Homo sapiens: one gene and its partner. The protein of the gene in region 2 purifies or fractionates together with the protein of the main gene of each other region. This does not show direct contact. Each region holds a gene or a part of one and is shown on either strand. Other genes may lie near its edges.

Region 1 (3,500 bases), on a different chromosome or scaffold from region 2:
CCAACAAGGTGAAACCCCATCTCTACTAAAAGTGCAAAAATTAGCCAGGTGTGGTGGTGCAGGCTTGTAATCCCAGCTACTCTGGAGGCTGAGGCACGAGAATTGCTTGAACCCAGGAGGCAGAGGTTGTAGTCAGCTGAGATCATGCCACTGCACTCCAGCCTGGGTGACAGAGTGAGACTCTGTCTTAAAAAATAAAAAAATGGAATAAAAGAGTAACAGAACAGCTTCTTTTAGTTGTCTTACAAATTCTTTTTTCCTTCATACTGCCCGGGCACCCTGATGGTCATGGATGTGTCACTGATGGGCTGCAGAAATGAATGTTTACAAGTACCGAATTTAACTGTGCTGATGTATACTTATAGAATAAAGACCTCTTTTAAAATATAAATGGCACTTTAACAAAAGTTTTAAAATTCCTTTTTGAAACCAAAGTTCCTTGATTCCAGATTTTACTGAAGAGACTGCTCTAAGGTGATCAGTGAGTCTCCACTGTGTCTGAGAGTTCAGGCTTTGGTGTTTGCCTGCACAAGTTCAAAGATGGGCCCCGTTATTAGCTAGGAATAAGAGCTTAGGCAAATTGTTTGGTCTCTTTTCTCTGAAGATTGTGAAATGTGGGTAATCATTTTGAACACTTAACCCTCAAGATAAGCTGGTATTGATAATGATTTCTGTTTTTATTAATAATGATTTGTGTTTTTATTAAGAGTGTTTATGATCTCTTTACAGACAGAGCTCATAATGGATGCTATCCATAAACAAAAGAGCTTACAATTCAAGAAAACCATGGATGTGAGTCACATTTTATTGTCTTTTTTGGGATAATGGTGACATTTTCTGAAATCCTGTGCTGTGTATGAACATATTCCTACTCAAATAACATTTCAAAAATGTTATTATTTATTAGTGCAGTGTTTTAGGGAAAACAACCTTAAATGCTTTGGGTTTTCTTTTTTGTTGTTGTTGTACATATTATTACATTACCCAGAGATTAAGTTCAGTACCCAATAGTTATCTTTTCTGCTCCTCTCCCTCCTCTCACCCTCCCTCTCAATTAGACCCCAGTGTCTGTTATTTCCTTCTTTATATTCATAAGTTCTTATCATTTAGCTCCCACTTATAAGTGAGAACATGTGGTATTTGGTTTTCTGTTCCTGCATTAGTTTGCTAAGGATGATAGCCTCCAGTTCTATCCATGTTTCCTCAAAAGACATGATTTCATTCTTTTTTATGGTTGCATAGTATTCCATGGTGTATATGTACCACATATTCTTTATCCAGTCTGTCATTGATTGGCATTTAGGTTGATTCCGTGTCTTTGCTATTATGAACAGTGCTGCAATGAACATTCACGTGCATGTGTCTTTAGGGTAGAATGCTTTATATTCCTCTGGGTGTATACCCAGTAATGGGATTGCTGGGTCAAATGGTAGTTCTGCTTTTAGTTCTTTGAGGAATCTCCATACTGCTTTCCACAATGGTTGAACCAATTTATACTCCCACCAACAGTGTATAAGGTTTTTCTTTTTTTAAGGCCTTGGAAAGATTGAAAGTGACACTAGATAGTGGAAATGCAACAGGGTTATCTTTCTGGTAACCCGAGAAAATATAGCAAGTCAGTTCAAATATTTTAGGCAAAGATACAAAAACATATATAGTGTACAATACCCTTTATCTTATAGAATTTGCAATTTTACCCTGTTACTATTTTGAATCTTGATTGCTTACCTATTTTATTGAGTGATCCCTTTCTGTTTTAAGATATCTGAAAATTATAAAAACTTTTCCTTTAAGTAATTTATTTAAAAAATGTTGGCAAGACAGAGATTGGACAAGTTGCTAGAAATCTCTCTCTAGCTTTTATGTATCTGTTGACTCTGGATACAACAAACTCTGTTATTAGAACATATATGACTCCATCTTGACACCGAAGTATCATCATGATATTCTACGAGTAGGATGTAATAGGGAAGTGTCACCAGTGTTGATAGCATATGCAATCTGTTCTGCTGCATTCTTTTTCTCCTTGATGCAGAAATCCCTCAAAAACAATTGATAAATAGGGAATGATGTCAGTGTAATACAGAAATAGTGTTAGTTGATAGATGATTTTTCCCAGACCTTTTATATTTTAAACAATCTGGGGCAAGATTTTTTATAATTAAAGAGAAAGGCTTATCAAAATATAACTTTCTGGCTGGGTATAGTGGCTCACACCTGTAATCCCAGCACTTCGGGAGGCCGAGGCAGGTGGATCACCTGAGGTCAGGAGTTCGAGACCAGCCTGGCCAACATGGCAAAACCGCGACTCTACTAAAAATACAAAAAAAAAAAAAATTAGCTGGGTGTGGTGGTGTGCACCTGTAATCCCAGCTACTTGGGAAGTTGAGGCAGGAGAATCGCTTGAACCCAGGAGGTGGAGGTTGCGGTGAGCCGAGATCGCACTATTGCATACTCCAGCCTGGGCAACAAGAGTGAAACTCTGTCTCAAAAAAAAAAAAAAAAACTCTGAAAGGGGGAGAGAAGAAGGCACACTGGCTAGTGACCTTGGACTCAAAGAACAACCTGACAAGGGTTCCCTGGGCTTTCTTTTTGCCTCATTTATCACAGACTGAGTGCCAAAGAAGCAGGCATCCCAGAAATGCCAATGGTCATAGACCAAAAATTAAAAAAATAAAAAAAATAAATAAAAAGCTCCAAGAAAAACCTGTTCTCTCTAACCAAAAGACCAGAAAAGGGGCAGCCTAGCAGGACAGAAACTTTAGAAAATAACCATTCTACTGCAGCCAAACACCACGTAAAAAACCTGGGGACCCACCTCCACACATCAGCAAAGGCCAAGTGGAGAGTCTAAACTTCCACCACACCAGGCTGTAGAGAGCACCCAACTCCCCTGCCAAGGTGGCAACAGAGAACAAATAGGGGACCAGGACTTTCACTCCCACCAGGAGGTAACAGAGCCTCCTCTACACAGTGTTATTGGGAGCTATGTGGGGAACCCTGACTTCCACCTGCACCGGGAAATAATGATGTACACCCTCTCCCTCCTGGGATGGTGTCTAAGGAGGTCTAGTGGAGAGTGAGAACTTTAACCACTTTCCAGTAGTAACTGGGTCACACACACTCTGTGGTGTCAGTGGAGACCAAGGAGGGGAAACCTGGACTTTCACACTCACATGACAGTAATGAGATGATGCCTCACCTTCCCCTGCTGGAGTGGTGTCCTGAGGAAGCTAGCTAAAACAGAAGCCTTAAATAAAATCCAGAGTCTTGTAACATAATACCAAAAATTCCCCCAAATCAATCAAATATCACTCTTCATACCAGAAAGATACGAAACTCCATGAAAAGAAAGACAATCAATAGCTGCCAAGATCTAGATAACAGAGATGTTGGAATTATGTGACGAAGATTTTACAGCATCCACTATCAAAATATTCAGCAAGCAATTACAAAGACACTTTTTTTGAGATGGGGGGGTCTCACAATGTTGCCCAGGC
Region 2 (3,500 bases):
ACCTCTGCCTCCTGGGTTGAAGCGATTCTTTTGACTCAACCTCCTGAGTAGCTGGGATTACAGGCATGTGCCACCATGCCCGGCTAATTTTTTTTTGTATTTTTAGTAGAGACAGGGTTTCGCCATATCAGCCAGGCTGGTCTCGAATTCCTGACCTTGTGATCCGCCCGCCTCAGCCTCCCAAAGTGCTGGAATTACAGGCGTGAGCCACCGCACCTGGCGTATTTTTTTAGGGAGTCAAATCCTACACCTAGGCTGGGTGCTGTGGCTCACGCCTGAAATCCCAGCACTTTGGGAGGCCAAGGTGGGCAGATCACTTGAGGTCAGGAGTTTGAGACCAGCCTGGCCAACATGGTGAAACCCCATCTCTACTAAAAATACAAAAATTAGCCGGGCGTGGTGGGGCATGCCTGTAATCCCAGCTACTCGAAAGGCTGAGGTGGGAGAACTGCTTGAACCTGGAAGGTGGAGGTTGCAGTGAGCTGAGATCATGCCATTGCGCTCCAGCCTGGGCAACAGAGCAAGACTCCATCTCAAAAAAAAAAAAAAAAAAGTTATACCTAGAATTTTGACTGCATACGGGGGTTGGCACTCCTAGCCCCTGTGTTGTTCAAGGGTCAACTGTAACTATAAGAAATTCTAGCTTATGTGCTACATGTAAACGATTAGTTAGAATGAGAACTGGAAACTTGCCATGTACACAGTAAGCATGAATTTTAAATATCCTCTTGAAGCACAGAGATTAAAATTATAGCTAATGTTTTACCAAACACCATACCATTAACTGTATTATTTGGCTCCTTAATGAATATGCATAATGACAACAAATTATTTTTATATTAAAGATGAATTCAAAGAATCTAAAAAGTTACTAATTTCCAAGGGAAATACTTTTCATTTCAACACTAATTTTCTTTTTCTTTTTTTTTTTGAGATGGAGTCTCGCACTGTCACCCAGGCTGGAGTGCAGTGGCGCGATCCTGGCTCACTGCAAACTCCGCTTCCCGGGTTCACACCATTCTCCTGCCTCAGCCTCCCAAGTAGCTGGGACTACAGGCGCCCGCCACAACACCCGGCTAATTCTTTGTATTTTTAGTAGAGACGGGGTTTCACTGTGTTAGCCAGGATGGTCTCGATCTCCTGACCTCGTGATCCACCCACCTCAGCCACCCAAAGTGCTGGGATTACAGACGTGAGCCACCGCGCCTGGCCTCAACATTAATTTTCAAAAGATAAGATAAAATATTGCTTCCTCCTTCCATAATGGAACGTGACAGTGATTACGGTAGTAGTTAAAAGGAACTGTAATTTTAAAAACAGAGAATCATGAGACTAATACAAATGAAATTCATTCCTGATTCTGCCCTGCTATGAGCATGAGTGATATAACATGTGTTTGCCTGTTTCATAGCTTTAGCTTCAAGGGGTATGATAAAGATGAAGTAATGTTTACAATATAAGTTAGAACTTCTTTTGACTTCTTTTAAAAGGTAGTATGGGATAAGATTCTGGAAACCTGGGTCTAGTCCTAGTTTTACCACTGATTTGCTGGTATCATCTTGAGCAGTCATTTAAATGACTTTGTCCTTGTTTTTCTAAAAAGGTATACGCCTTTTTTACAGATGGCATATAAAATCATTTAATCATTTTTGTATGCCATCTGTAAAAAAGGCATATACCCACCTTACATACCCTAGAGAGTTGTAGAGAAGACCAAATAATTTTACTTGGAAGTACTAAAAGAGTTTAAAAAGTTGTACAATAATATTTATCAATTAGATGACATTAGTAAGATAATCAGAAAATCCAGCTAGAGCTCCAAACCAATCAAAGAAAATGAGGTTTGAAAACAAATATCCATTCACATTATCTTGTCTAAATAAAAGAATGACTAATTTAGAGGAGAAGCAAGACAAGTTGTGTGATGAAATTAATATGCCTGTGACCACCCAAAGTGAGACAAGTCTGATGGGTGTAGAATATTTGAGCCTAACAGACTCAACAGAGTTAACAGAGAGTTAGCTGTTATGCAGTGACCTGGCAGCACGACAATATTTCTGAAAATCACACAGCAATAAACTGTCACATGCAGATTGAGAGTGCAAAACAAAGCATATTATAAGAAAATAGTAATAATGCTGTAAAAGACAAGACTAGAATTATGACATCAATTTAATCAATTCTGACCATTAGACCAGTTATTTTACCACTTGTCTACACTATTAAGCAATAATTTTTGTGATATAACCATTTTCGTGTAACAAAACGCTGCAAAAACCTATATGAAAAATCAATACACCCCTCAAGAAAAAAAGCCAAAGTAAATGAAGGGGCATCCAACATGGTTTTATGTAGACACAGTATGTCATAATCTGACTATTTGAGAAACAACATAAGGCTACTTATGAGAAAAAAGAAAAAATATATAATAAGATGGCATGAATTAGGATCTTCTTAAGAAAAAAAGACTAGTGGAGAGACATAAACTGGAGCCAAGAATGAAGTTAATGAGGCATAGAGCACATTTGTTATGGGTGGGCCACAAATTTGGCTCTAAGCTTTTTGGCATCTGGCCAGAGAAAGGTAAACATTCACAATGTCCATAAGACAAAAACAAAGCAATTGCTCAGGAGAGGTAAAATAATTCTTTGTATTATAGTCCGATAGTTTTTTCTCAAGAGATTTTCATAAAAGACATGGTGCATCATAACAAATAGTGCCTCACAGTATCCTTACAACAGATGAAACAGACAGGATTGTTTCCTATAATAATCTTTACTATCTAGCCTTATGGCAAATGGGCACAGATCAATCAAACAAAAGCAATTTGACAGAGTTTAGGTAATCAGCTTGTCGATGTGACTTGATGTAAGAGTTTATAATATAAAGGCAGAATGACTGCTCCCTGGCTACAGCATCTGTCTCTCATGTCTTCAATAAACACTGCATACTTGTGAGTGCCAGGTCATATAGCTTGGCAAAAACCCGGAGACCTACTCTCTACACTGCCTGCTGAAATCACACCCAGTCTTCAACACCAACCCAACTAGGGAAAGGAACCTGCAAGAAGACTGCCTCAACAGTCAGTCATCTCTCACCTTGAAGGGAATGTCCACAAGCTGGGCTAAGATTTTCTTCAGAAATAGTTTTTGTGTTTTGTCTGTTTGATTTTTAAAATACCAAGCACATAGACAAAATGTTAATCAAGGCCTTAATTCTGTTCCATACAGCATGACAGCAAGTTTAACTCCAAAAATTCTAATGCAAATAGAACTCAACTAGCCTTTAGCCAAACCCACCCTTTGCCAAAAATAACTCTAAACTTCGTATTTGAAGACTTAAATTTTAGATTCAATTCTGTTACTCATTGGCTGTGTGATCATAAATAAATTACTAAATTTCCTTAACTCTCACTTTCCTTTTCTGTAAAGTGAAAATATTTTCTATTTTTATTTTTTATAGTCCAGAGTTTTTTTTTTTTTAACACCTACCAGCAGCCC

Evidence for each region. The genes of interacting proteins can lie anywhere in the genome.
Region 1: the proteins of SENP8 (region 2) and PSTPIP2 fractionate together in Homo sapiens (co-fractionation; one large-scale study listed by BioGRID). This does not show direct contact.

What each region holds. Positions count from the first base shown.
Region 1 is NC_000018.10:46,002,761-46,006,260, reverse strand, and holds part of PSTPIP2 (proline-serine-threonine phosphatase-interacting protein 2), read left to right. Parts: intron 1-729; coding exon 730-792; intron 793-3,500. UniProt on the Homo sapiens protein: Binds to F-actin. May be involved in regulation of the actin cytoskeleton.
Region 2 is NC_000015.10:72,135,403-72,138,902, reverse strand, and holds part of SENP8 (sentrin-specific protease 8), read right to left. Parts: intron 1-3,500. UniProt on the Homo sapiens protein: Protease that catalyzes two essential functions in the NEDD8 pathway: processing of full-length NEDD8 to its mature form and deconjugation of NEDD8 from targeted proteins such as cullins or p53.